Linked DNA regions of Homo sapiens. The protein of the gene in region 2 interacts with the protein of the main gene of each other region in a pairwise test. Each region holds a gene or a part of one and is shown on either strand. Other genes may lie near its edges. The genes, in order: RXYLT1, POMGNT1 and CXorf66.

Evidence for each region.
Region 1: the proteins of POMGNT1 (region 2) and RXYLT1 interact in binary tests that used the Homo sapiens proteins (3 or more experiments, as listed by UniProt).
Region 3: the proteins of POMGNT1 (region 2) and CXorf66 interact in binary tests that used the Homo sapiens proteins (3 or more experiments, as listed by UniProt).

What each region holds. Positions count from the first base shown.
Region 1 is NC_000012.12:63,795,660-63,805,564, forward strand, and holds part of RXYLT1 (ribitol-5-phosphate xylosyltransferase 1), read left to right. Parts: intron 1-6,431; coding exon 6,432-6,746; intron 6,747-9,574; coding exon 9,575-9,745; intron 9,746-9,905. UniProt on the Homo sapiens protein: Acts as a UDP-D-xylose:ribitol-5-phosphate beta1,4-xylosyltransferase, which catalyzes the transfer of UDP-D-xylose to ribitol 5-phosphate (Rbo5P) to form the Xylbeta1-4Rbo5P linkage on O-mannosyl glycan.
Region 2 is NC_000001.11:46,186,582-46,196,486, forward strand, and holds the end of POMGNT1 (protein O-linked-mannose beta-1,2-N-acetylglucosaminyltransferase 1), read right to left. Parts: exon of another isoform or gene 9,720-9,905; coding exon of another isoform or gene 9,621-9,719; intron 9,497-9,620; coding exon 9,431-9,496; intron 9,344-9,430; coding exon 9,230-9,343; intron 8,381-9,229; coding exon 8,263-8,380; intron 8,071-8,262; coding exon 7,972-8,070; intron 7,821-7,971; coding exon 7,693-7,820; intron 7,345-7,692; coding exon 7,274-7,344; intron 7,059-7,273; coding exon 6,983-7,058; intron 6,808-6,982; coding exon 6,724-6,807; intron 6,635-6,723; coding exon 6,593-6,634; intron 6,378-6,592; coding exon 6,319-6,377; intron 6,010-6,318; coding exon 5,937-6,009; intron 5,856-5,936; coding exon 5,727-5,855; intron 5,643-5,726; coding exon 5,517-5,642; intron 4,204-5,516; coding exon 4,139-4,203; intron 3,937-4,138; coding exon 3,892-3,936; intron 3,409-3,891; coding exon 3,273-3,408; intron 2,987-3,272; coding exon 2,877-2,986; intron 2,777-2,876; coding exon 2,689-2,776; coding exon of another isoform or gene 2,661-2,688; 3' UTR 2,400-2,660; and 3 more. Other genes in the region: TSPAN1 (tetraspanin-1), read left to right, coding at 9,621-9,719. UniProt on the Homo sapiens protein: Participates in O-mannosyl glycosylation by catalyzing the addition of N-acetylglucosamine to O-linked mannose on glycoproteins.
Region 3 is NC_000023.11:139,960,569-139,971,322, forward strand, and holds the start of CXorf66 (uncharacterized protein CXorf66 precursor), read right to left. Parts: upstream 4,954-10,754; 5' UTR 4,929-4,953; coding exon 4,841-4,928; intron 1-4,840.

The DNA.
Region 1 (9,905 bases), on a different chromosome or scaffold from region 2:
TTTATAGGCTGTGTCTTCAAAATGTATAATAATTGAACCCAATATTAAATATAATACCAGACTCATTTCTCCTCTATTTGAGCATTTATCTCTATGAACTTTAATCTATAGCCATTTAAACTGCTAATATTTAAATATACCCAAATTATTTCCTGTAAAATTATGGGAAATTATTGTTTTTTAATATTTTAATTTTTTAACTTGTTCTTTTTGAAATAATTTTAGACTTAACAAAAATATTGCAAAAATGGTACCAAAAAAATCCATTACACCTTTCATCCAGATTCCTCAAATGCTAACATCTTACATAATTACCGTATAATTATTTTTTTCAGGAAAATAACATTGATACAAAACTGTTATCTAATTTACAGATACACACATTCCCACTACTGTCCATTTTCTGGCCCAGTTTCCAATCCAGAATCACACGGTGTGCTTGGTTTCATATCTCTTTGGCTTCAGCCAGTCTGTGACAGTTTCTCAGTCTTTGTTGACCTTGTGACTTATGAAGAGTACTGCCCATGTATTTTGTAGAACGTCCTTTAGTTTGGGTTTGTCTGATGTTTCCTTACAGTTCAGTTCAGGTTATGTATTTTGGTTCCGAATACCTCAGAAACAACATCGTGTCATCCTCAGTGTGTCATATTTGTTCCCGTTACTGATTATGTTAACTTTGATCACTTGGCTAAGGTGCAGTCTGCCTAGTTTGTTCACTGTAAAGTTACTGTTTTTTTCCATTGTGATATTTACTAGGAGATTCTCTGGGACCATGTAGATAACCTGTTTTTCAATATGATTACAAGGTCCCACAGTATCTCCCTTTCACCCACAAATGTTAGCATCCATATAAATACCCAAAGACAAATAAAGAGATAAATGCCATTCATTGAATCAGTCATCAGCTGATTATTCATCTCTTAAATTAGGCCTCATCTTCAGAGCAAGGAGTAAAATGTTTAGTAGTCTTAAACGTTTTGATTTTAAGAAACAAAAGTAAAAGGAGCACATCATTTGAATATGATGAATTATTTTGGAACAAAGAATTAAATTGTTTGTTATATGCAAATAAATACATAAAAAACAACCAAGAAAACCTCATAAAAATCCCCAGAATCACTGGATAAAAATTTAAAAATAAAGAAAGTGCAATCCCAATAAGACTTTAATGTTGACCATTCATTAGGAAAAAAGCCTACTGCAATAGTCCTGTCGATAAAAAAAAGAAGAAATTGAGAAAATAAAAAAGCCAACTATTAGAAGAATTTAGGGCCTAAAGAAAATTATATTTCTTTTTCTTTTTCTTTTTTTTTTTTTTTTTTGTGACAGAGTCTTGCTCTGTCATCCAGGCTGGAGAGCAGTGGCACGATCTTGGCTCACTGCAACCTCCACCTCCTAGGTTCAAGCAATTCTCCTGCCTCAGCCTCCCAAGTAGCTGGGATTACAGGCACCTGCCACCATGCCCAGCTAATTTTTGTATTTTTAGTAGAAATGGGGTTTCACCATGTTGGCCAGGCTGGTCTCGAACTCCTGACCTCAGGTGATCCACCTGCCTCAGCCTCCCAAAGTGCTGGGATTACAGGCGTGAGCCACCATGCCCAGCCTCATAAATTATTTTCATACCATATAGAAAGCATAATGATAAGAATATGCATACTCTACCATGTTTATTGTTATGGAAATACAGAAGAAAGGCAATTAACTCAATCTAAGTAGAGTTAGGGGTGTGGGGCCTATCAACAAATGTTTTCTAAAGGAGGTGATAGCTGAGCAGTCTTTAAAATGAGTAGAAGTTAGCAAGGCAGAAAAAAGATTATATTCCCAGCAGAAGTGACATCAGAGGTTCATAAGTGATAAACTTGGGTTTATGCATGGAATTGCAAACCAATCAATATTCCTAGAGCATGAAGAAAAGGTAAGGTAGCTGAGATGGGGAGGATTGAGCAAGGGCCAGATCATGGTGGGCCTTGTATGTACCACATTAAGGCTCTTGGACTTTATTCTAGGGTAGTGAAAAGCAATTGAGGATGATTAAGCAGGATAGTGGTATTGTCATGTGTTTATGTGTGTAGATTTCTTTAGCAGCCATGGGGGAAAGTGATTTGAAGGAGACAGCTGGGTGCAGGCAGACCAAGTAGGAGATTGGAAGTATCCCACAGAGATAAAACTAATGGATGAAATAGGGAAGTGGTAGTGGGTCAGAGCCAGGGACAAATTTGAGAAATATTTAGGAGCAAAATGGTCGGAATTTAGGGATTAATTAGATGGGAAGATGAGAGAGGGAAACAAATCTGAGAAGTCCCTAGTTTCTAGTTTGCATGAGTAGGTAGCTAATGTGACACAAAAATAGAAAATACAGAAATAGCAAATCTGTCCACTCTTCTCTAGCCCACCACCCAACATCTACCTATCTCCTCTTTCTCAGCAGACAACCCTGCCTCCTCTTTCATCAGGAAAATTGAGGACATCATAATTATCTCTCTTAACTAGCTGCTGTAACATGTACCTACTCTCTGTCTGGTCCCTCACCCATCCTTATCTCTTTCCAAGCTCTCAAACATTGAGTGATCTTTCCTGGCTCAAGGTTAAAGCCCACCACCTGTGCATCCCACCTGCTTCTAGGACCTTGTTCCATGCATTACTTCCTTGCTTTCCTTTATTCTCCACTTCATTCATTATTGCTTTATCACCTTCTCTTCAAAACTTTCAGAATCCTTGTCTATACTCACTGTAATCACTTCCTTACTTCTCAACCCATTGCAGTTTGACTAACAAACTTTCCAACACACATATGTACATACATACATACAACCCAGGTATCTGAATCAAATGAAATTTTTTGGGCCCTTAAAGTTTCTTCTTTTAGATCTGTGGTTCCTTGACGGAGGCACTGTGGGACATCACCAAATATTTTAAATATTTATGGGAAACACTGATACTTGATATCTTTCAGGCCCTATGCAAACTGCAAGTTCAAAGCAGTACAGTTTCAACATTAGATTACCCTGCATTTATTTGAACAATATCAGGACTTTGTGAAGCTGGGTTTTCCATGGTTGCCGTGATAAAATGCACGCACTGCACAAAAATGAGTGTGGAACAGGAAATGACACTGACAGTGTCCACTGATTCCAAGGTTTGAGAAGTTCTATAGTGCTCAACAGGTGCACACATGCTATTAAATATTTGTGATTAGTTAAGAATGAAATAGGAATATGAGTTTTTCTTTCAGTGTCTGTGTATTTTTTTAAGTCACTTTTAAGCTGTTAGGACATAGATACTTATTAGGTTGTTTAGACCTAATGACTTTAAAAATTGAACTGTTAAGCATTTCTTTTAGCTTGGGAGACACTGAAAAATTTACAGGAACACTAAAGGTGCTAAGAATCTCTGACCTACACCTTGGCTTCGCAGTATTGACCCCATGGCTTTCACCATTACCAAAACACAGGGAGTTGTGGACATCCAAGACCAAGACAGTATAAATGTGCCCTTGAATGAATCATACTTCATTTTGTTAATTTGTGTGGATCACTAAAATTAGAAAGATATTCCTTTCACATGAAAGTTACATTTGAGAATAGCTTCATATATTTTATTTTAATACATTGACTAAAACCTACTTTGTTTTTCTTTTCTTTTCTTTTTTTTTTTTTTTTTTTTTTGAGACAACGTTTCATTGTTACCCAGGCTGAAGTGCAGTGGCGTGATCTCAGCTCACTGCAGCCTTGACTTCCTGGGCTCAAGTGATCCTCCTGCCTCAGCCTGCTGAGTAGCTGCACCACCATGCCCAGCTAATTTTTGTATTTTTTGTAGAGATGGGTTTTCACCATATTGTGTAGGCTGGTCTCGAACTCCTGGACTCAAGCGATCCGCCTACCTCAGTCAACTAAAGTGCTGGGATTACAGGCATGAGCCACCACACCCAGCTGTATGGCACTCTGAAATTGTTTGGGCACATGATATATATGGACTTAATGTCAAATAACCAAATTTGAGTCTGATCTGTACCATTTCCTATCTAGTGTCAGCTAGCTTTATGCAAGTCATAGAACCTCTCTCAAGATTTCCTTTTTTTTCCTTCATAAAATTGGCCTAACATGGGGAAGGAGGACTGGAAGACTTTCTCATGCTCTTAAGAATTATACCTGCTTATATTTCTAAAAGAGAAATACAAAGTATTCGTATGCTACCAATAATAAATATTTTAAACATACCATAATTATCATCATCATTGCTAGTTTTTCTAGCCCCTCAGATTCTGCATATTGTCTTAAATTACTAGGTTATCACTGAATCATTAGTCATTGCCAGTGCTAGATACTGTCCAAGGCAAACATAGTCCTCAAAACATAGTCCTGGTCCCTGTATGTTATATAATTTTAGAATAATGTCATATAAATCATATGGTACATGCACACATAGTAAAATATATTTTTACGTTTTGTGCTTTAACTAATATCTGTTTAGTATTTGTTAACCATGGAGTTATGGAAAAACTTAAGCTCTGAAGTGAGACAGAACTTTGTTGAGAACTCGTCATTGCCATTACAAGCTGACAGCTAAAGTGCAATTTCACAAATGCCAATGAGAGAATAATGAACTCCTCAGAGTTGTTGGGGGGGTTAATGATGACCCATGCAAAGTGCTTATGTATCATGTATATAAAAGGCGTTGAACAAATGTTTTTATCCCCAGCAGTAAGAAGCAATGAAAGTAGGCTTTGGGTATATTTGTGCTGAAAATTAGATTCTATCAGGATATAAAGAAATGGTTTAAGCAAGTTGTAAAGAATCTAGGATAAGAGTGACTAATTTTAAGATGAATTAAATGGTACTTGTTCTATTTAATACATACTAGTGAAAATATTTCAATGGTACTGGTTGTTCTAGGCAGCACTTAATATGAAAAAAATGAGTTATGATACATGTCTATTCCTTTAATGAAAACTTTTTAAAAATACAGTTAAAAAGAGAGTAGGCTGAGCACAGTGGCTCATACCTGTAATCCCAGCACGTTGGAAGGCCAAGGCAGGTGAATCACTTGAGGTCAGGAGTTCAAGACCAGCCTGGCCAACATGGCAAAAACCCTGTCTCTACTAAAAATACAAAAATTAGTTGGGCATGGTGGCACGCACCTGCAGTCCCAGCTACTCAGGAGCTGAGGCACAAGAATTGCTTGAACCCAGGAGGCAGAGGCTGCTGTGAGCTGAGATCATGCCACAGCACTCCAGCCTGAGCAACAGACTGAGACTCTGTCTCAAAAAAAAAAAAAATGGTAATACAACACATTCCCATTTACTCACCATTCAAAACTAACAAATTTCAGCTCTCTGTCATATTTGCTTCAGATATTTAATTTTCCTGTTAAAAAAATTAAATACTTTCAATAAGGGTAAAGCTCCCTTTGTACTGTTTTCTAGTCCCTTTCATCTTCCTTCCTCCTCAGATACAATTGCTATCATAAATTTGATGTGGATCCTCCCATTCAAATTTTTATATTTATACTGATCCTAAATATATATGTGTAAATAATTTTTATGACTGTACTTTCAAGTTTATGTATATTTTGTGAGTGTCCTAATCCTTGCTTTTTTTAACATTATATTTTTGAGATATAACATTCATGGAATGTTTATAATGCCATTCTTCGTTTCTTAATTTGTCAGCACTTTCTCATCCATTGAGTCAGATGAAGAGTGTAATAGCAGCTCACACCATAAAAGGGTTGAGAACTACTGACTTTAAATGCCTTTCTGGTTTGAACTAAACCATTATTTTACAGAGTTCCATGCTATTCAATTATATTTCTTTGCTTAAGAGTTTAAATTCTAGCCAGCATTTATTTTCAGTGTGGTTAAAACAACAACAGAAAAAAAGGTCAGGCATGGTGGTTCATGCCTGTAATCCCAGTACTTTGGGAGACTGAGGTAGGTGGATTGCTTCAGCCAAGGAGTTCAAGACCAGCATGGGCAACATGGTGAAACCCCATCTCTACAAAAAAATACGAAAAATTACCTGTGTGTAGTGGTGCACACCCGTAGTCCCAGCTACTCGGGAGGCTGAGGTGGGAGGATCACCTGAGCCAGGGAAGTTGAGGCTGCAGTGAGCCAAGATTGCACCACTGCACTCCAGCCTGGGCCACAAGAGTTGAGACCCTGCCTCAAAAAAAAAACAAAAAAACACAAAACTATCACATTTTGTATTATCATATGCAAATTGATCTGCCTACAGCCAAAGCTTACCATTAATCTACAGCTATGCCCCATCATTCAAACTTGTTCAAAAGATTGTATTATAGAAATTTTACTTCTAGATAGAATGTGGATTAAATCTCATTGTAGATTTTGTATAAAATGATGAATTTCTGATACCACATACCTTTGTTCAGGCTTTGTTTGTCTCTTGTTTTTGTTGTGTTGTTTTTAACAGCTTCATCACTGGTCCAGCTGTAATACCAGGGTACTTCTCCGTTGATGTGAATAATGTGGTACTCATTTTAAATGGAAGAGAAAAAGCAAAGATCTTTTATGCCACCCAGTGGTTACTTTATGCACAAAATTTAGTGCAAATTCAAAAACTCCAGCATCTTGCTGTTGTTTTGCTCGGAAATGAACATTGTGATAATGAGTGGATAAACCCATTCCTCAAAAGAAATGGAGGCTTCGTGGAGCTGCTTTTCATAATATATGACAGCCCCTGGATTAATGACGTGGATGTTTTTCAGTGGCCTTTAGGAGTAGCAACGTAAGTACAAAATATGATTAAACATTTTTAGGCCCTAACACCTGAATTTCTGAACCAGGAAGACTTATTCAAAATTGTAATAAATTTAGTTCTTCTGGGATTATTGAGGCCAGGTACAGTCTTTCTCAGAGATAAAAACAGGGTGTGGTCGCATCCTTCAATAACAATTATGATGTTTTTAAGAGTATTTTATTCTTTAATGAGGAGATGAGTTACTTTTTTTCTTTTAAAACCCCAAGGCATAGAATGGATTTTTCAAGCTTATTAGGAGTGCCATAAAAATATATTTAGCAGAGAAATGGCAGATAGATTTTTTTAAAAACAATGATAGTATCTATATATAGTAAAAAAAGGCAATATTATTATATCAGGAATATACCGTACCATTGTGTTTGAGACTGGCTGAATTTATACAAATCTCTTCTATAAAAGGAGGGATTAATTAAATGATAGCTAAGGTTTCTCAAGATACAGTCTTTTAGGCCAGGCGCAGTGGCTTACTGCCTGTAATCCCAGCACTTTGGGAGGCCAACTAGGCAGATTGCTCGAGTCCAGGAGTTCAAGAGCATCCTGGGCAACATGGCAAAACCCTATCTCTAAAAAAAAAAAAAATCAAAAATTATCCGGGCATGGTGACATGGACTCCTGTATGGCGCCTCTAGTCCTAGCTACTCATGAGGTTGAGGTGGGAGGATCACTTAAGCCCAGGAGATTGAGCTGAGATTGTACCACTGCACTCTAGCCTGGGCAACAGAGTGAGATGAGACTGTCTCACCAAAAAAAAAAAAAAAAAAAAAAAAAAAAAAGATATAGTCTTTCTCCAGCTATAAAATGGAAAACATATATTTTTATCTTTCTGTTAATAGGATGTTTTTAATTAAGAGCAAGTTGACTTTAAGATAAGTTGCCACTAGTATATAAACCTCCTGAGAGCAGGGATTTTTGTCTCTTTTGTTCACTGTTCTATCCACAGAGCCTAAAACAGCACCTGCAGAGTAGGTATTCTGTATTTGTTGAGTGGATAAATTATGAAAAATCTCACTGACATGATTTTTGAATCATACATTCATTATTCATCATTCTGTCCCTGGTTGCGGGATGTGGCCTTAGACTGCTGCCTAGTTAGCGACACAGATGTCACTGGCACATCTGTGCCAGTAATGAGATGTATTCCCAAGCCTACTCCTATAACACCCTAACTCAGTAGGTTTGGGGTAAGGCCAGACAAAAAGGTTCTTGTTAAGTAAAGCCAGGTTTAAGACCCTCTTAAAAATCTATTTTTTGAGCAGAGCCTGCATTTGTAAAATGTTTTCATATAGTATAAGATGGAACCTCTTGGTAATCATGATGTTGTTGCACTAGGCCAGTATATTTCTTATATAGGTCTGTGGTTCTCAACCAGGGGCAATTTTGCCCACCGGGAGGCATTTGGCAGTGTCTGGAGACTTTTTTTTTTTTTTTTTTTTGAGACGAAGTCTTGCTCTGTCACCCCAGCTGGAGTTCAGTGGCACGATCTTGGCTCTCTGCAACCTCTGCCTCCCAGGTTCTAGCCATTCTCCTGCCTCAGCCTCCCAAGTAGCTGGGATTACAGGTGGGCATCACCACTCCTGGCTAATTTTGTATTTTTTATAGAGAGGGGGTTTCGCCATGTTGGCCAGGCTGGTCTCAAATTCCTGACCTCAAGTGATCTGCCTGCCTTGGACTCCCACAGTGCTGAGATTATAGGCATGAGCCACTGTGCCTGGCCTGGAGACGTTTTTGATTGTCACAACTGGAGGAAAGAGGTTGTCACAACTGGTATCTAGCAGATAGAGCCCAGGGATACAGCTGAACACCCCACAATGTATAGGACAGCCTCCACAAGAAAAAATTAACCCAAAATGTCAGTAATGCTGAGGCTAAGAAACCCTGTTATATACAAACTGTTAGGTAAAATTTTGTTCTCGTGTGAAAGTTACATTTCAGGTACACAGTTTAATCCCTGGTATTTCCAAATGCTCATAAAAATAGGTAACTTTTCCTGTATGGCATACCATGGTTTTATCTGTCAGTTTGTTTTAATCTACTTGAAAAGCCCTTGGGATTAATTTTTCAGAGCCCTTTGCAATAGCAAAATATATAATCTTTCCTTTTTTTTAATTGACAAATAGTAATGGTATATGATAATGGGGTACAAATGATGTTTTGAAATATATTTACAACGTAGAATGCTTAAATCAGACTAACAAATCCGTAACCTTATATACTTAACAATTTTTGTGGTAAAAACATAACATCTGCTGTTTTAGCAATTTTGAAATATACAGTGCATTATTATTTATTATAGTCACCCTATTCTGTGTGATAGATCACTAAAGCTTATTCCTCCTGTCCAACTGAAACTTCATACCCTTCGATCAACATCTTCCTTTTCCCCATCCATCTCCCTCCCCTGGAGTATTCTGTAATCTTTTCATCACCTGGTTAAAATGTTGCTTAAATCGTGATCATTATGAATAGAGAAGAGTCTTTATACTTTGAAGGTTTTGAATGTAACATGCCTAACAGCTGCAGATGAGTAATGCAAGTTAAAGAATGTCAAAAACAAATAACTTTAGGCACAACATCTCTGTAACACTTTTGTAAGAGATGTCAGTGTGAAATTCAATTTTTTTAAGTCAGTAGATTCAGGGAGTTTTCCAAAGTATTCATGGAAAATTACAATTTGAGATTTAGAAATCACATTTTAAACCTCTTCTGTATACTTCTTGCTACCTAAGAGATTGGGTTATGGGGAATTTTTGCCAATTCTATATCATATGTTAATTCATGTGTATTTATTTTTATAGATACAGGAATTTTCCTGTGGTGGAGGCAAGTTGGTCAATGCTGCATGATGAGAGGCCATATTTATGTAATTTCTTAGGAACGATTTATGAAAATTCATCCAGACAGGCACTAATGAACATTTTGAAAAAAGATGGGAACGATAAGCTTTGTTGGGTTTCAGCAAGAGAACAGTAAGTTCTATGCTTATTTAATTCATTCATTTTGTTCTCCAGTCTGAGAGTTGCTTTATGTAGAAACACAGGTTTCCAAAGAGGCATTGTTAACTCTATTTGTACCAATCTTTCCCCAGAAGATACATTAGTAATTAAAACTGTGAAAAGACTGGGTTGT
Region 2 (9,905 bases):
CGGGTTCAAGCAGTTCTCCTGCCTCAGCCTCCTGAGTAGCTGGGATTACAGGCACCTGCCACCATGCCCGGCTAATTTTTGTGTTTTTTTTTTTTTTTTTTTGAGAGAGTCTCGCTGTCGCCCAGGCTGGAGTGCAGTGGCGCGATCTCGGCTCACTGCAGGCTCCGCCCCCTGGGGTTCACGCCATTCTCCTGCCTCAGCCTCCCGAGTAGCTGGCACTACAGGCGCCCGCCACCTCGCCCGGGTAATTTTTTGAATTTTTAGTAGAGACGGGGTTTCACTGTGTTAGCCAGGATGGTCTTGATCTCCTGACCTCGTGATCCACTCACCTCGGCCTCCCAAAGTGCTGGGATTACAGGCATGAGCCACCGTGCCCGGCCACGCCCGGCTAACTTTTTATATTTTTAGTAGAGACAGGGTTTCACCATGTTGGCCAGGCTGGTCTCGAACTCCTGACCTCAGGTGATCCACATGCCTCAGCCTCCCAAAGAGCTGGGATTACAGGCGTGAGCCACCTCACCTGACCTAGACCTCATCTCTTCTTTAGCCCTAACTATCCCTATGCTCCAGGTAGGAAACTAGGGATCGGAAAGGCCAAGATACTTGCCCCAGTCCCACAGGCTTCTGTGAAGAGCTCAGCCTAGATTTGGGCCCAGAACTCCAGCACCTGGTGTAGTCCTGGCTGACATGGTACTAGTTCCACTTGAAGGGGCAGCTGGCCAGAATGTCTGATATAGACCTGATCACTGTTGAGCCAGGAGTGAGAGGCCTGAGGGAGGCTATGGCAAGAGGGTACAGTGTCTGCTACCAAGCAAAGCCCAGCCTAACAAACCAGTCCCCCTCCTTACTTCCCTTTGACCCCTGTAACTCTCTTCCTGAGCTTTTCCAGGGCAGCCCAGAACCACCACCCCCTTGCTGAGCCCAGAAAGGAAGAGGGACCTGGCCAGAACCAAACAGTGCCTTAGAGCTGGTCTGTGAGGGCCAGACCAGGAGCCTGCTAGGGTGCGGGACAGGGGGAGGAGCTAGCCTGCCTCACCCCTTCACCACCATACTGTGCCTCTCACACTTCTCCTCTGCCGTGTGCCTGTGTGGAGGCTGCATGGGATTTGTTTGCCCAGGGCGGGCCTCTACCTCATCATGGGCTAATTGCTGCTCAACCTGGCTGTTGTGCCACCTCAGGCACTATATCCAGCTCCAACAAACACTGAAGGCGTCAGGGTGGCGAGATATGTCCAAGCGACATACCACCCATGCTGTCACCGAGTTGGGCTCCAAGCACCTGTGAAAGAGGCAGGGCAGAGAGCAGGCAGGAGGGCTGGAGTTCCAGCTGGAGTTCTGTACTTGTACAGAGGCAGGCAGACCCTTTCTGAAGAGGTGCTCCACACTCATCCTCCTGACATTAGGCCCTTCACAGATCCCTTAAATGTTCTTTTCCCTGCCGTAGGCTTTCTCATTCACTCCCTCTGGACAATCCCATCCATTTTCTGGTGCCCCTATGACTAACTTAGATCTTCCTAACCTCTTTGGGTTACTGGCTATGTGAGAATCTGATGAAGACCATGACCCATTTCTCCACAAAAATGCCCAGATAGAGAATTCTGAATAGCAAAGTGCTCTAAGGGCCATAGACACCCTTGCTCCTACATCTCCATCTGCACCCTAGCCCGTCTCTTGAATGATGCCTGCCCAGTCCTGTCCCATCCACTTCCTTCCCACCCCTACTATGCACACCTGCTCTCTCATTTCCTCTTCCAACTCCCCAGTATCCCTTTTTGTTCTCTCCTGCTCTGTCTCTGGGGACAGGTGCCCGGCCCAGGCAAGATAAGCAGGAACCCGGCTGGTGGTTAAACGGTGGGGAAGAGGTAGGGTGGCTGCTCCAAGCCTCAAGTAGGGCGGGGCTAAAGTCAAGCTGTCCTAGGGTAGAGTTGGGGAAAAACCTTGGAGTTTGAGACTCAGGCATCCCCTGGTGGCCAAATGGCCCCAAATGGAAGATAAACTCTGTGGAGGACAGTAAGGAAAACTCACCATCCAACACAAGTATTCTCTCCACCACTTCCCTCCAGCACCCCCCTGACACACAAAATCACAATCACAAGACATCCCCAGAGGGCTTCTCCTTTTTTAATCAATGACCAACTTATCCAGCTTTGGAAATCTGGACAAAGAGAAGGCTGAGAGGAGGCCTGGTCCAGTGTCTAAGGGTCTCTGAGTGAGTCTGTGTCAGCATGTGGGCCCCAGCTGGGCCTGTCCATGGGTTGGGCACAGCAGTTTCCTGAGTAAGAGCCAGCCCCACCCTCAGGGCAGCATTCCAGCCCAAAAAGAAATCCAGGCCCTCCAGGTTCGGCCTGTTTTCAAGGCCCTCAGGACAGTCAATAAATAGGTTAGATTCTGAGCCAGGCCTGGAAAGTGAGGGTATTCAAAGGGCAGGATGAGCTGCTAGGGATCGTAATGATTCCCAGGTACTCTCCTGCCCTTCTCCAACAAGGAAGTAAATAAATAGACTTTTAACTCAGGAACGGGGTGTTGGAGCAGGGGAACCCTCCCCTTGGAGTTAGTAATTAAGTCTCATGTTAAAAACAAGGTAGCCCCAGCCCCTACCAGCATCTACAAAATCCTACAGGATGGAGGGAAGGGCTAGCCAGCCTGGGGGTACACAGTACCCAGCCCCGCAGGGTCCTGGAGGAGGTCTCATGTCTGTTCTGGGGCTCCTGGGGCTCCCTCCTCCTTTGGGGGTGGCTCCAGGAAAATTGGGGTGACTGAGGGTGGCTTCTTCACTCTGGGAAAATAATACAAGAATGTATAGAGAAGAAGCCATTAGCTATATCCCTGGATCTCACTAGGCCTCCTGTTTCCCAGGGCAGAAAAGGGTCACTCACGAGTAGGGGGAAGCCGGGACCCCCACCATCAGGAAGTGGTTCTTCTTCCGAAACAATCTCCACAGGCCCCGATGGTTGCCACGCACATCCAGGTCCCAGATATGGAGGCACTAGTGAGGGTGGGATGGAGACAGAGACATGGGTCAGAGAGCTGTAGGGAGGGGTCACTGACGACCCTTTGGCCCAGCCCCCACCCCTCCTCAGAAACCACCTCAATTTGTAAGAGATAGCATCTTTTAGAATATGAATTTGGACAAGGAGGTTGGAAGAGGTGTTCTAAGAGTATAAAGAGGAGGTTCTGAGGTTGAAGATTCCAGAGCAAAGGCTCCCTGGATCTTGGGGCAGTATGTGTGTGAGGGGGAGGGGTTCTCCAGGGTGGGCATGGTATTGGAGCACCTTGGCAAGCTGGGTCCAGGTGGTGAAGTCATCATCTTTCTCCATTCGAATAAAGGCCACGTAGGTGTGGCCCTCTGTGTCTGGCAGGAAAGAGTCTTCACAAGGGTTCTTGCTGTGGTCCAGAACCTCAGCCTCACTGCAGTAGAGGGTGGGAGAATATAGCCAAGACAGGGCCCACTTCATGGGTGTGTCCCACAGGACCCTGTACTTGGTTGAATGCTCTGCTGTTGCCACCTTGAAGTTCTTTTTTTTTTTTTTTTTTTGAGATGGAGTCTTGCTCTGTCGCCCAGGCTGGAGTCTCCTGCCTCAGCCTCCCAAGTAGCTGGGACTACAGGCGCCTGCCACCACGCCCGGCTAATTTTTTGTATTTTTAGTAGAGACAGGGTTTCACCGTGTTAGCCAGGATGGTCTCGATCTCCTGACCTCATGATCCACCCACCTCGGCCTCCCAAAGTGCTGGGATTACAGGCGTGAGCCACCGCGCCCGGCCTGAAGTTCCTAATGTTTGAGATGAGGGCCCTGATTTTCATTTTGCACAGGACCCTGTAAATTATGGGGCCAAGATCCCCAGTATTTGACTCTTTGCTCCCTGCTACACCCCAATTGTCCTAGGCCATACCTGAGCAGCCTGTGAACTTCCACTTCATAAGCTTCTTTCTTCAGACTGAAGAGGAGGGAGAAATGGGTCAGGGGAGTGGGCAGGCCCTCAGGTCCCATGGGTAGCACTGAGCAGGGCAAGGGGTCACATGGGAATCTGTAGCCGCAGGGCTGGAGTAAACACACAGGCCCAGCATTGGAAGGGACTTTCAGGGACTGGCCTCCAAATCTCCTAGATATCCACCCCTTGCCCTGCTGCCAGCCCCAACCTGTCCACATTCCTGAGCTGGACACCTGGAACCGTGTTGAACTTGTGCTTCTTGAAGTAGGCCTCCTGGAGTGGGTATGAGAGTGAAAATCAGCACCTCACATTGTCTGGCCCACACCCACTTGCTGACCAGCCAGACATCTATAAGACACACAAATGAAGTCCTAGACCTGTAAAGAGCCCTCTAATTTCCCACCGTCTTCTCCATCCTCTTTGCAGCATCCTCAGCAAGCTCTTACTAGCTTTAATTTGGCCTCCACCATTGCTGGAGAGCTCATGCTGTCACGGCAGCTCACACTACTGCACCACAGACCCATGAACTAGCAGTCCCTGCCTCTTGTAGTTCTCCCTGGGCCTGCTGTTCTAGAGCCACAGATGTCAGAAACAGGCCCTGCAGGAGGTGGTGGGCAAAGGGACGGGCTGGGCTGGGAAGGAAAAAACTACTTTGACTCTGGTACTGAGAGTGACCTGAGGGAAGCGCCTGCCCCTCTCTGGGAGAGGAATGGGGCTCGCGTATTAGTCAGCCTCTGAGGGACCTCTGGCTTCTAGGAGGTTCCAAGCTGGACGCTATTCATTCCTTTGGGCTGGGCTGGCTCAAGGCCTCCCTTGCTGTAACTGGGGAATGGTCCTCTGAATGCAGCCAGGTGGGTTGGCGGTACCTAAGGACTTCCCTGTTCTCCTCAGGCTGAAGCATAGGCTCCAGCACTTGCCAAAACAGGAAAGGGCAGAGATTGCAGGGCTGGACCAGTACTTAGAGGCAGAAATACTCTCCCCAGACACCCACAGTCTAGTGCTAAAAATAGTAAAAATAAAAACAATACCAGCTGACCCTTATATATGTTTATAATTCAAAGCACTTTACATATATTGACTCATTTAAACCTCAAAATATCGTAACCCAGTGAGGTAGTAGTATTTTATCCTCTTTTTTTTTGAGATGGAGTCTCGCTCTGTCACCTAGGCTGGAGTGCAGTGGCGTGATCTTGGCTCACAGCAAGCTTCGCCTCCTGGGTTCACGCCATTCTCCTGCCTCAGCCTCCCAAGTAGCTGGGACTACAGGCGCCCATCACCAGGCCCGGCTAATTTTTTGTATTTTTAGTAGAGATGGGGTTTCACCATGTTAGCCAGGATGGTCTCGATCTCCTGACCTTGTGATCCACCCGCATCGGCCTCCCAAAGTGCTGGGATTACAGGCGTGAGCCACCGCGCCCAGCCCTTTATCCTCATTTTTCAGATAAAGAAACTGAGGCAAAAATAGGATAGCTCTTTCCCCAAGGTTACATGGCTAGCAAGTAGCAGAGCTAAGATTGCTTCAGAGTCCATGTTCTTGTTCTTGACTGTCATGCCACACTGTGCCCTGCTCCCTGCCTCCCACTCACGTGAAAGTAGCCATTCATGTTGAGGCCGACGATGCCAAAGTGGTAGGATCGGGAAACGTCAGGGATGATGCACTCTCGGCCCCGGCGTTGTTCAGGCATCCGCATCCACATGTCCCAATCCCAGAGCTGGCAGACATGGACCACGATGAAGGTTAAGATGTTTCGAGTTGGTAGGGGACTCCAGCCCCCTCACCCTACCCTGACAGTTACCTTTTCCGGTGTAGGCCACTTGGGCTCAAGCTCCTCCTTGTACAAGGACCTCCTGAGCACCCAGCCCAGCCCAGGCATGGTCTCCACACGGTACAGTAGTGCTGGGTCCTCAGCCGTGTGTTCATACCCCTGGGGACAGGGTGCCATAGTGGGAGGTATTAGCTGAGGCCTCATAAACTCGCCTGCTAAACCCTGGTCATTCCAGCCTACCTGGTCATTCCAGGCAGAGATGCAGTACAGGCTGTCATCCTCCTCCAGTAGGTGGATGGATTGGCTCAGGAAACTGAGAGAGGCAGGGTCAAAGAGTTCAGGGAGGGACAAGGATAAATCTAGTCACACAGAGATGCTAGAATTGCTGGAGCTGGGTCTCAGGAGCACCTCCTTCCTGGAGTACCTCCTTCCCCCAAATCCCCACTGTCTCCATTCATCCACTGTACCTTCAACAGCAGCCCCAACACCTGCCATCCTACCTTTGCCCAGGCTTCGCCCCCACTTGTGAGCTCATGTCCTCCAGAAAGCTCTCTAGGACACCTCACTGACTCTTTCCCTGCAGACTGAGGGACCTCAACTGAAACCTAGAGACTCCCCTCACCTGAAAAAATCCACAGCAATGTCCAGGTCCTCTTCCAGAACCACAGCAAACTTGGCCTCCTAGAAGGGGAATGGGACATCATGGTCCCAAAGGGGTCTCTCCATCCTGTGATCTCCTTTGCCCCCAACCCTCTTCTTGCAGGCAGCATTACCCCCATTTTCCAGATGTGAAGGATGAGGCCCAGTGAGGGGAAGAGCTTGCCACGTAACAGGCCCAGACCTTATGCCCATGTTTCCCCCCTCCCAGGCCCAAGAGTTGTATCCTTAGTACTCACCGGAAACAGGTTGAAAGTGGCAGTGAGGCTGGCCTTGTAGTGCTGGGAGTGGGGTGGGAATAGGGCACATGAGCTTTAGGGTAGAAGGCAGAGCCAGGTGTCTGCCCCATCCCCACTTGCCTATGCAGTACCTGAGACACGCGGGCATTCTTGATGCTGATGGGAGTATGCTGGATGCCCCTCAGACCAAACAGTGCCACCACATCCATGGGTTCCTGGGGGACATGGCCACTGCTCACCATGTGAGGTCACTTTCCCTCTGCCCACCTCTGCAATCCAAGGCCTTCACATTTCACAGCCCTTGCCTGGGCGGTCTCCCTTGCCCGTCCCTGGCAATCACTGCTGCTCCATGTTGTACTCCACCCGAGGCACCCCCCAAGTCCTGCTCACCTCATAGTAGCCGTCAATGAAAACTGTTATCATCTGAGGAGACACCCCCTGGGCTGAAAGCAGAGAGCGCAGCATCCTGGGGAGCCCAGGGATAGGTTAGGGTCACTTCATCACCCCTCAACTCAGGTTCCCCTGTGTTTACAGCTGGGCCCAGAGTCCCTATGCTTACCCACAGAGGTGAATGCGTCTAGAATCTATTGCCTTTCTGCCCACCTCAAGAGTTCCTCCTGGAGGTAGATGACCTAAGCACCCTCCTGTTCAGTGCTGGGTATAGCCCATTCCCAGGCTTACCTGTACAGGTAATTGGGTCGGTTCCCTGCAATGACAGCCACAGGCACATTGAGGACCTTGTTGTCTGGGAGCTGTGGGAGAAATAGCGTTTAGCTCTTGCCTTATTCCCCCTTCAAACTGGGATCCCCACCTAGGGAAGACTTCTCAGGTGAGGGTAGGTGCAGACTGGAGTAGACAGGGAAGGGATAGAGGATCTTCCCTGTTCTGGGCTCTCCACACACTCAGCCCAACTCTAGCGCTGAGCTTTACTCACATGGCCTGCCCCTTCACCCCAGCCCTGTCTTTCAGAGCGCAGTGTAAATCCTGCCCCTGGTTCTCTCCCAGGCTCAGGTAGGGAAAGCCCAACCTAGATCATTCCTGGGGCCCCCCTGCTGAGCTGGGAAGGAGTCCAAACCTCACTGTCTTAAGGCCCCACTCACTGGGTCAGGGCTGAACTCGATGGGTGTGGGGTCCTTGCAGCTGCATACACTTCCATAGCCCTCAACTTTGCTGCAGAAGCGCCGGCGGCGACGGTTCAGCTCTGTGTCTGCCCAGTGGCACTCTGCCTCTGAGGGAAGGATGCGGTTGTCATGGAGGCATGGGGCCAGCAAGGTTTGAAGAGCCCCAGGCACACAATCAAAGGAATAAAGCTCCACAGAGAGATCTAAATGCCCACCCCCAGCCCAGGCCCTGCCCCATCCATGCTCCACTAACTCCACCTTCTGCTGAGCTCAATGGCACATCTGTCTTCAGCAGGACTGGGTCCCCCCAGGAAGAGAGGGCAGGTGATTTAGAATGTTTCTCCCCGAAGACAGGACCTGGCAGGAGGCAGGAATGAGGGCCATGGGGGCCCAGACACCAGTTTGGGGGCTTTTTCCCATCTCCCTGCCTACTTTCATCCAACCCACTGCCACTGGCTCCTATTTGTTCCCCACCCCACCCCATCTCCTAGGGTTCTGCTCCTCCCAGGCTCTTGATACTACAGAGTGGATGGCCTCTGATGCCGGCACCTCCTTTTCGTCCCACGAAGGCCCATGTGTCCCTCCAGCCCAGGGCAGGGCCAGCCTGGCTGCCCAGGCTCCTCAGCAGAGCCTTGGCTGTGTCCTTGAGGTGGAAGGAGCCCTCATCCTGGGGGACCAGAGAAGGCAGTTAGCCTGACTGGCATGGTTCCAGGAGACCTGGCCTCACAGAGCACGAACTATGTAGCAACCTTTTACTTAAAATAGCTCATTACATTATTGCAATAACCCTCTATGGTTACTCTCTTTCACAGATAAAATAATAACTGAAGGCTTAGAGATTCTAAGGTCATCCAGCTAATAAGTCCTTTCCACAAACCCACACGATCTGCACCTCTCTCTCCCGCCACTCTCTGCCTTCTTTTCCAACCACTCTCCTACTCTCCTCCCTTATTCTGCTCCACCTCGACTAGCATCTTTGCTGTTCCTCAAATATGCCGTGTACCTTCCCACTATAGGGGCTTTGCACTTGCCATTCTTTCCACCTGGAATGCTCTTCCTCCAGATACTCACCTGGCTCACTCCTCAATTCCTCAGCTTTCTGCTCACATATCATCTCCTTGCAGGGGCCTTCTCTTTCTAAAATGTCCCCTCCCCTCTATCATTCATTATCCCCTGCTTTATTTTCTTCTTTATACAAGTTATCATTTACTAGCATTATCCACATTTACTTGGCTGTTTCTGTTGACCTCCCACTGCTGGAATATAAGCTCCATGAGGGTGGGGACTCTGTCTTGTTTCCCATTGTATCTTCAGCACCCAGAGAAGTACCTGGCATACAGCTGTTGCTCAATAACTATTTGCTGAATTAATACAAATGTTAAGGCTGAGATTGGAACCTGAGTAACCTTCCTTCAGAGAATCTTCCCACTATGTTATATGAGGGGCAGAGAAGCCGGGGCTAGAAGCAGGGTTGGAGCTAGGGAGTAGGGGTCAGGGTCAGGACAGAATAACTGACCTTGACAGTGCAGATGAGCACTCGGCCGGGCGCTACCATGTTGAGGAATAGCACCATGGCCTCATCCTCATGAGGTGAGTACGTGTCAAACACACGTTTTGCCATCACGTGGCCCTGGCAGGGGATATACTTCTGGTGAGTTGGTGTCATCAGCAAGAGCCCAGCTCCAGCCCTCTGGGTCACCCACCCCTAGAAACTCACCGTGGCCTGGTTGAGGACAATGACATGGATGCCCCGGCCCTGCTCCCGGGCCTCATCCTCCAGCACCTACACAGTGGCAGAGACAAAGTCCAGCTTTTCACTCTGGCATTCAAGGTGTCTCTGTCTTAGGGGTACTTAAAACACCAGCTGCTTGAAACATCACCTCCTGCCTATGTTTCTGTTCACACAGTTCTTTTCCAACTCAGCTCGAAGGCCACCTCTTCCAGAAAGCCTCTATAGCACTCCCATCAGAAGAGATCACGTCTTTCTACAACCCTCCCCTCCATGACTTTCATGGCTCTTAGAGCCTCTGCTGTCTCTGCTTCATCCTGGAAGTATCACAATCCTCCACCACACTGAACCCCTCAAGGTAGGGCCAGGTCTGATTACTTTCAGGTCCCCAGTGCCCAGCACAAGGCTGAGGCCAAAGAAAGGACCAGGGGATGGTTATAAAATAAATCAATGAATTGACTGC
Region 3 (10,754 bases), on a different chromosome or scaffold from region 2:
ATACAATGAACACCACTAAGATACTCCTGGAGAAGAGCAACCCCAAGACACATAATCATCAGATTCTCCAAGGTTGAAACGAAGGAAAAAATGTTAAGCACAGCCAGAGAGAAAGGTCAGATTACCTACAAAGGGAAGCTCATCAAACTAACAGAGGATCTCTCTGCAGAAACTCTACAAGCCAGAAGAGAGTGGGGGCCAATATTCAACATTCTTAAAGAAAAGAATTTTCAACTCAGAATTTTATATCCAGTCAAACTAAGTTTCATAAATGAAAGAGAAATAAAATCCTTTCCAGACAAGCAAATACTGAGGGATTTTTGTCACCACCAGGCCTGCCTTACAAGAGCTCCTGAAGGAAGCACTAAATATAGAAAGCAAAAACCAGTACCAGCCACTGCAGAAACACACCAAAATATAAAGATCAATGACACTATGAAGAAACTGCAACAACTAATGTGCAAAATAACCAACTAGCATCATGATGACAGGATCAACTTCACACATAATAATATTAACCTTCAATGTAAATGGTCTAAATGCTCCAATTAAAAGACATAGACTGGCAAATTGGATAAAGAGTCAAGACTCATCAGTATGCTGTATTCAGGAGACCCATCACACGTGAAAAGACACACATAGGCTCAAAATAAAGGAATGGAGGAATATTTACCAAGTGAATGGAAAGCCAAAAAAAGCAGGGGTTGCAATCCTAGCCTCTGAAAAAACGGACTTTAAACCAACAAAGATCAAAAAAGACAAACAAGGGCATTACATAATGGTAAAGGTATCAATGCAACAAGAAGAGCCAACTATCCTAAATAGATATGCACCCAATACAGGAGCACCCAGATTCATACAACAAACTCTTAGACACCTACAAAGAGACTTAGACTCCCACACAATAATAGTGGGAAACTTTAACATCCCACTGTCAATATTAGACAGATCAATGAGACAGAAAATTAACAAGGATATTCACAACTTGAACTCAGCTCTGGACCAAGTGGACCTAATAGAACTCTCCAACCCAAATCAACAGAATATACATTCTTCTCAGCACCACATAGCACTTATTCTAAAACCAACCACGTGATTGGAAGTAAAACACTCCTCAGCAAATGCAAAAGAACGGAAATCATAACGAATGGTCTTTCAGATCACAGTGCAATCAAATTAGAACTCAGGTTTAAGAAACTCACTCAAAACCACACAACTACATGGAAACTGAACAACCTGCTCCTGAATGACCGCTGGGTACATAACAAAATTAAGTCAGAAATAAAGAAGTTCTTTGAAACTAATGAGATCAAAGAATCAACGTACCAGCATCTCTGGGACACAGCTAATACAGTGTTAAGTGGGAAATTTATAGCACTAAATGCCCACATCAGAAAGCAGAAAAGATCTGAAATTGACACCCTAATATCACAATTAAAAGAACTAGAGAAGCAAGAGCAAACTCATTCAAAAGCTAGCAGAAGACAGGAAATAATTAAGATCAGAGCAGAACTGAAGGAGATAGACACATGAAAAACCCTTCAAAAAAATCAATGAATCCAGGAGCTGGTTTATTGAAAACATTAATAAAATATATAGACCACTAGCCAGACTAATAAAGAAGAAAAGAGAGAAGAATCAAATAGACACAATAAAAAATAATAAAGGGGGTATCACCAATGATCCTACAGAAATACAAACTACCATCAGAGAATAGTATAAACACCTCTATGCAAATAAACTAGAAAATCTAGAAGAAATGGATAAATTCCTGGACACACACATTCTCCCAAGACTAAACTAGGAAGAAGTCAAGTCTGTGAATAGACCAATAACAAGTTCTGAAATTGAGGCAGTAATTAATAGCCTACCAACCAAAAAAAGCCCAGGACCAGACAATTCACAGCCAAATTCTACCAGAGGTACAAATAGGAGCTGGTACCATTCCTTCTGAAACTATTTTAAATAATAGAAAAAGAGGGACTCCTCCCTAACTCGTTTTATGAGGCCGGCGTCATCCTGATATGAAAACCTGGCAGAGACACAACAAAAAAAGAAAATTTCAGGTCAATATCCCTGATGAACATTGATGCTAAAATTCTCAATAAAATACTGGCAAACCGAATCCAGCAGCACATCAAACAGCTTATCCACCACCATCAAGTCGGCTTCATCCCTGGGATGCAAGGCTGGTTCAACAAACGTAAATCAATAAATGTAATCCATCACATAAACAGAACCAATTACAAAAGCCACATGATTATCTCAATAGATGCAGCAAAGGCCTTTGATAAAATTCAACACCCCTTCATGCTAAAAACTCTCAATAAACTAGGTATTGATGGAACATATCTCAAAATAATAAGAGCTATTTATGACAAACCCATAGCCAATATCATACTGAATGGGCAAAAGCTGGAAGCATCCCCTTTGAAAACCTGCACAAGACAAGGATGCCCTCTCACCACTCCTATTCAACATAGTATTGGAACTTCTGGCCAGGGCAATCGGGCCAGAAATAAAAGCGTATTCAAATAGAAAGAAAGTCAAATTGTCTCTGTTTGCAGATGACATGATTGTATATTTAGAAAATCCCATCATCTTAGCCCAAAATCTCCTTAAGCTGATAAACAAATTCAGCAAAGTCTCAGGATACAAAATCAATGTCCAAAAATCACAAGGATTCCTATACATCAATAATAGATAAGCAGAGAGCCAAATCATAAGTGAACTCCCATTCACAATTACTACAAAGAGAATAAAATACCTAGGAATACAACTTACAAGAGATGTGAAGGAACTCTTCAAGGAGAACTACAAACCACTGCTCAAGGAAATAAGAGAGGTCACAAACAAATGGAAAAACATTCCATGCTCATGGATAGGAAGAATCAATATCGTGAAAATGGCCATACTGCCTGAAGTAATTTATAGATTCAATGCTATTCCCATCAAGCTACCACTGACTTTCTTCACAGAATTAGAAAAAACTACTTTAAATCTCATATGGAACCAAAAAAGAGTCTGTATAGCAAAGACAATCCTAAGCAAAAAGAACAAAGCTGGAGGCATCACTCTACCTTACTTCAAACTATACTACAAGGCTACAGTAACCAAAACAGTATGGTGCTGGTACCAAAACAGATACATAGACCAAAGGAACAAAACAGAGGCCTCAGAAATGACACCACACATTTAAAGCCATCTGATCTTTGACAAACCTGACAAAAACAAGTAATGGGGAAAGGATTCCCTATTTAATAAACGGTGCTGACAAAACTGGCTAGCCATGTGCAGAAAACAGAAACTGGATCCCTTTTTTACACCTTATTCAAAAATTAACTCAAGATGGATTAAAGACTTCAATGTAAAACCTAAAACCATAAAAACCCTAGAAGAAAACCTAGGCAATACCATTCAGGACATAGGCATGGGCAAAGGCTTCATGACTAAAACACCAAAAGCAATGGCAACAAAAGCCAAAATTGACAAATGGAATCTAATTAAACTAAAGAGCTTCTGCACAGCAAAAGAAACTATCATCAGAGTAAACACGCAACCTACAGAATGGGAGAAAATTTTTACAATCTATCCATCTGAGAAAGGGCTAATATCCAGAATCTATAAGGAACTTAAACAAATTTACAAGAAAAAACAAACACCCCCATCAAAAAGTTGGCGAAGGATACGAACAGACACTTCTCAAAAGAAGACATTTATGTGGTCAACAAACATATGAAAAAAAGCTCATCATCACTGGTCATTAGAGAAATGCAAATCAAAACCACAATGAGATACCATCTCATGCCAGTTAAAATGGTGATCATTAAAAAGTCTGGAAACAACAGATGCTGATGAGGGGAGGAGAAATAGGAACGCTTTTACACTGTTGGTTGGAGTGTAAATTAGTTCAACCACTGTGGAAGACAGTGTGGCAATCCCTCAAGGATCTAGAACCAGAAATACCATTTGACCCAGCAATCCCATTACTGGATATATACCCAAAGGATTATAAATCATTCTACTGTAAAGACGCATACACACGTATGTTTATTGCAGCACTATTTACAATAGCAAAGACCTGGAACCAACCCAAATGCCCATCAATGATAGACTGGTTTAAGAAAATGTGGCACATATACACCATGGAATACTATGCAGCCATAAAAAAGAATGAGTTCATGTCCTGTGCAGGGACATGGGTAAAGCTGGAAACCATCATTCTCAGCAAACTAACAGAGGAACAGAAAACCAAACACTTCATTTTCTCACTCATAAGTGGGAGTTGAACAATGAGAACACATGGACACAGGGAGAGGAACATCACACACTGGGGCCTGTTGTGGGGGTTGGGGGCAAGGGGAGGGAGAGGATTAGGACAAATACCTAATGCATGTGGGGCTTAAAACCTAGATAATGGGTTGACAGGTGCAGCAAACCACCATGGCACATGTATACCTATGTAACAAACCTGCACGTTCTGCACATGTATCCCAGAACTTGAAGTAAAAAAAACAAAAAACAAAAATAAACCCCTACTGTATGTTAAGTCCCTTGCCAGATTCATTTATATAGTATTAGCTAGTTTGGTGGGGACAGGTTGGTATATTGAGTGGGGAAGGGTGGTAAAGGAGGACCATAAGTCTGTCATCTTGATGCTTATATTTTGCTTAAGTTTTTTAATATCAGCTGTTGTATTAGAAATTCTTGAAGACCTACTAATGTTAACACTGCTAAAAGTAACAGCAGATTTCTTAAATACAGCTGGCGTTTCTAATTAAATACTTTAATGTATACTGTAACAGATCATAATTTACAAGTTTTAAGGTTAGGCACCTACCTGTAGTAGAAGATCCATTGGTTTGGTTTGTAGTCATGCAATTATTTTTCCAAATGGACAAAAGTAGGACACAAATAACAAGATTCATGTCCGCAACTTGGTTCAAATGATTTGTCTACTAAGGTAACTACTGAATTTATACAGTTCAGAGTGTTCTAGGCATTTATGACATCATTACCATTGTGTGTCATACTCTGACAACATAATCTCACCATAGGGAAGCATAAGCTTCTGTATACAAATTTTACCAAATGACTTTTTTTTTTTTTTTTTTTTTTGAGACGGAGTTTGGCTCAGGCTGGAGTGCAATGGCATCATCTTGGCTCTCTGCAACCTCCACCTCCCGGGTTCAAGGCACGGTGGCTCACAGCTGTAATCCCAGCACTTTCGGAGGCGGAGGTGGGCGGATCACTTGAGGTCAGGAGTTCAAGACCAGCCTGGCCAACACGGTAAAACCCTGTCTCTATTAAAATGCAAAAATAGCTGGGCATGGTGGTGGGCACCTGTAATCCCAGCCACTTGGGAGGCTGAGGCAGGAGAATCACTTAAACCTGGGAGGTGGAGGTTGCAGTGAGCCGAGATTGCGCCACTGCACTCCAGCCTGGGCGACAGAGCAAGACTCTGTCTCAAAAAAAATAAAATAAAGAGTAAAAAAGAAATGAAAGAACATGTCCTATAAAGGTGACAGTGTTTGAAATTATGCATTTGGGGCCATTGGAATATAATAAAATTAAACATTAATTGGAAAACCCCCAGCCTGGCCAATATTGTGAAACCCCCTCTCTACCATAAAAAAAAAAATACAAAAATTAGCCGGGCGTAGTGGCAGGCACCTGTAATCCCAGCTACTCAGGAGGCTAACACAAGACAATCACTTGAACCCAGGAGGCAGAGGTTGCAGTGAGCCTAGATGGCGCCACTGCACTGCAGCCTGGGTGACAGAGCAAGACTCCATCTTAAAAAAAATAAAAAACCAAAAAAAAAAAAATACAACTCAGTTTTACCCTGAAGGTCTAAATAATCCTGCTCATACTTTTTAACTGTATAAAAATCAGAAAATGTTATTCTATTGCTTTTGAATAAGCTGCTTTTGAAAATTTGAATAGGGCTTATAAAGTGAAAGAATGTATCTGTCACCTTTTTTAAAAAAAGAAATCAGGTTTTTTTTTTTCCCTAGTGTTGGATACATGGTAGACAAATATCTTAAAGCCAGTATTTCAGAAACAGCTTCCAAATTAATTTGAACATTAACTTCATATTCATAATGGTTACAAAAACACTTTACTTTCTTTGGCTTTAACATAGATTTATATGATTTTTATTTCATTTGCAAGTTTACATGACTAGCATGTTAGTAATAATAGATTTCACTCAGAAATTCTAGGTATTATTTTGATAAAAATTGTATATAATAAGTACACTATAAAACCCCATTTCTTGCTTCATATTTGTTGTTGTTATTGTTTTGATTGTTGCCAGGACTAGAGTAAAACCCAGTGAGATATTTGCCTGTAGCACAAAATTTAAGGGGTGTTGCAAAATTCAGTAATCAAATAAGATTTTAACGTGATATTTAAAAACCAAAATTAATGCCAAAAATCTATGACCAACAAAATATTGAACATTTAAATAAAGACAGGATCTGATTCTGCATTTGCATGAGCCTGTCCCACTCCCCTCACCCTAATCCCAGCTCTGTATCTTGAGCCTGCAGGGCCATATTTATTCTTTTCCACTTTAAAAAGCAGAGGGGAAGGGTCCAAGGACTTAGCCAGGTACTTAACAGGGCTGTGTCCCCAAGACCCCTAAAAATCTCACTAGGTCATTTTCCCCAGAGAGCTGCTCCTGGGCCCTTGTGTAATGATTCTTGGTGAAGAATGGCTGCTCCTGGTTTCTCTCTCCTTGGTTCTCCAGAGATTAACCTGTACCACTTTTCTGATTTCCGCCATTATATTTGATTGTCTTGCTTCCAATGTCTGGCTGGCGTCATATCTATAGGAATCAGTAGTAGGAAAAGCTCCTAAGCTCTTCCCAGCACCCACATGGCAAGTTTGAACCTTTGCCCTCATCCGGGTGAGAGGAACCTTTCTGGGGTTGCCACCTTGGGGATTTCTACTGCCCTCCTCTGGACCTCAATTGACAGTGCAATTCCGCCTTGGGCCTTCAACTTTTTCCCCTTATTTGATTTTTTTTAATTAAAAAAATATATGCACCTTATAAAAATTTTAAATCACACAGAGGTATTTCAGACTTCCTTTATCCCTTGAGATCTTCTGACCCCTTTAAAATTGCTTTAAATATTCCTTACTCACAGCTTGTGAAGATGCCTGAAATCTTCATCTCTATTTTTAATTGCACTTTAAAATTGCATTAGGAATATATTAATATTAACCCATTCTCATTATGAAAAATACACAAGACAGACATATACAGAATAAAACGTTATAGACTCTTTTCCTTCCCCACTCCACTCTATCCCCATTCTGGAGACAATGACACAAAAATTTGATGTGCATCTCTCAGATCTCTTTCTACATATTTACATACATATCTATGTACATGATGCACACCCATACTACATATAAATGGGAACATTCTATAAATATTCCTTTTCAGGATTTAAAAAAATCACACAACTATTCATATGCTGATATTCATAGCAGTATTATTCGCAATAGCCAAAAGGTGGAAACAACCTAAATGTCCATCAACAGATAAATGGGTAAACAAAATGCGGTATATGCATACAACGGAACAATATTTAGCCTTAAAAAGGAAGGGAATTCCAATATATAATACAACATGAATGAACCCTGAAAACATTATGCTAAGAAATAAGCCACATATTATATGATTCCACTTATATGGGGTACTTAGAGTGGTCAAATTCATAGAGACAGAAAGTAGAATGGTGGTTACCAGGGGCTGGGTAGAGTGGGGAACGGGGAATTATTGTTTAATGGGGACAGAGGTACAGTTTGGGATGGTGGAAAACTTCTGGATATGGATGTGATGATGACTGTACAGCAATGTGAATCTGCTTGATGTCACTGAAGTGTACACTCAGAAATGGTTAAAATAGTAAATTTTATGTTATATTAATTTTCTGCAATAAAAATATTTAAAAAAAATACACAACTAATGCTTAAACCATTTCCTTGTAAAAAAAAAAAAAAAAAAAAGTCACATGTGGCTGGGCACGGTGGCTCACGCCTGTAATCCCAGCACTTTGGGAGGCCAAGGAGAGTGGATCACCTGAGGTCAGGAGTTTGAGACCAGCCTGGCCAGCATGGTGAAACCCCGTCTCTACTAAAAATACAAAGATTAGCCAGGTGTGGTGGCAGGCACCTGTAGTCCCAGCTACTCGGGAGGCTGAGGCAGGAGAATCGCTTGAACCCAGGAGGCGGAGGTTGCAGTGAGCCGAGATCGCGCTATTGCACTCCAGCCTGGGCAACAAAAGCAAAACTCCATCTCAAAAAAAATAAAATAGAATAAAATAAAATAAAATAAGTGGTCAAGAAATGTTATTATTATTGGGTATAGTACCCACTTTTAGAGAGTTGATAAAGTAGGCCAGCAGATAATACCTATGTTGTTAATATCAGGAGTCAGGGACTGAAGGGAATTTGAGAATGGGGGCCAGAAAGAGAAGCAGAAGAGTCCCCAAATGGAAAGTGAGTGGTTGCCAATCAACTCTAGTGTTTAACTTTATGAAACAAAAAGTAGAAGAGATATAAGAACAAATAGATAGAAGCAAAGTTATACTACACAACTTTCAGCTCAAGATAAATCAAGTGGACACAAAATTATTAAGGAGGTAGAATATGTAAATAACATAAAATATAATCAATAGGGTTGATCATATATACATATATATGGAACTTTACAGTCCTTCCTTCTCTTTTTCACAGACATAATGAATTGTTTTATCTTCTTGGGGGCAGGAAATCTATCATTTTGGAAAACCACTTCTTTCCACCTCAACCAAATGGTCTTGATAAGAACTAACAATTATAGTATCCCTCTCTCCTGGCCACAAGGGTGAGCATGTGGCTCAGGCTAGACCAGTAATCGGTTCCCATCTCTAACCATAGTGATTGGTTTATAGTTGGGCATGTGACTCAGGACAGGCTAATCAGAAGTTTTCCCCAAAGATTTTTCAAACAATCTGGGCTGAGAAATTCCCTTACCACCAGCGCAGTAAACCTGGAAAAGATGTCCAAAGGTACCTGTGACACAGCCCCTGATGGCAGGAGTAAGCTAATTAGAAAGGATGAAAGTGGCTGGGTGTGGTGGCTCATGCCTGTAATCCCAGCACTTTGGGAGGCTGAGGCGGGCATATCTCTTGAGTTCAGGAGTCCGAGACTAGCCTGGCCAAAATGGTGAAACCCCGTCTCTACTAAAAATACAAAAATTAGCTGGGCATGGTAGCACACACCTATAATCCCAGCTACTTGGGAGGCTGAGGTTGGAGAATTGTTTGAACCCAGGAGGCAGAGGTTGCAGTGAGCCGAGATCACGCCACTGCACTCCAGCCTAGGCCACAGAGTGAGACTCTGTCTCAAAATAAATAAACAAAGAATAAAAGTGACATAAAGAGAAACATAAAGATGAAAGATGGAGAGTCTTCCAAGGAGAGTTACAATTCCTGTTTTCCTACAGCCATCTGCATTGCTGCCCTTCTAGTGGTTTGATTATATGTATTAATATAGTCCTTTTTTTGATTCACTGGTTGGAACTGGCTTTGTGTCATTTTCAACCAGAAGGGCTCTAACGAATACAAATTGATGTGATGTGTGTATATAAACAACAGGATAATAGCACGGAGGTCCCTGAGCCATTAATTCAGATTGATGGGTCAAAGCCAGACCCAGCATACTTGTTCTCGGGACAGCAGCCCCCAGCCACACCTCTGTAGCACAGGGGATGCTGCTGAGGTAGAATGAATCTGACACCTACGTTCACTGGAATTTTAAATGTTCCCCTGCCAGCAGTTACCAATACATCTCCTCTTTGCAGGCATGGACATTTCTGGTGAGAAGACTGTTAACAGCTTCCCCTCTTATATCTCTGTGCATAGCCAGTAAGACTTCCCTGCCAGTGCAAAGGCATGTGTATTCTTACTTGCATACGTTCACAACATGTGTACACATGCGTGCCCTCCAGGGTCTTCACACATGCACATATATGCATGAGCTCTCAGGTAGAACATGTAGGAAGCATCTGTAGTACTAGAAATTATGTTTCGTTTATTTTTAAATCTCATATGCCATATGTCTGTTAATGTGCTCTAGTTATTACCACATAAAGAATGAATAGCTGGTTTGATCTCAATTGTCGTCCAGCCTCAATTTGTTCAGTGACTGACATTAATGAAATCGTAATAGGTTGCTTTCTAGAAGGTTTTAACCATCCTCTAAGGGAGATTTTGACATTCTAGTATCCATTTCACACTTCTTTGCCTATTCTGCCATCGTGTGGGCAAGGAACACAAACATCAAGGTGTTAATGACCCAAGGTTGCATTTGAAAAGGGCTCTAATGATTACAGATTTTTTTTTTTCTCCAGGGGTAGAGGAAAAGTGGGAAGGACATGAGGAGGAAACACAAGTCCCCTCGCACCACCGCGTAAAAAGGCTGACTCTCCCTTCCTTCCTTCCTTCCTTCCTTCCTTCCTTCCTTCCTTCCTTCCTTCCTTCCTTCCTTCTTTCCTTAATTCCTCCCTCCCTCCCTCCCTCCCTCTCTTTCTTTTTTTCTTTCGACAGAGTCTGGCTTTGTTGCCCAAGCGGGAGTTCAGTGGCGCGATCTCAGCTCACTGCAACCTTCGCCTCCCTGGTTCAAGCGATTCTCTTGCTTCGGCCTCCCGAGTACCTGGGATTACAGGCGCCGGCCATGATGCCCGGCTAATTTTTGTA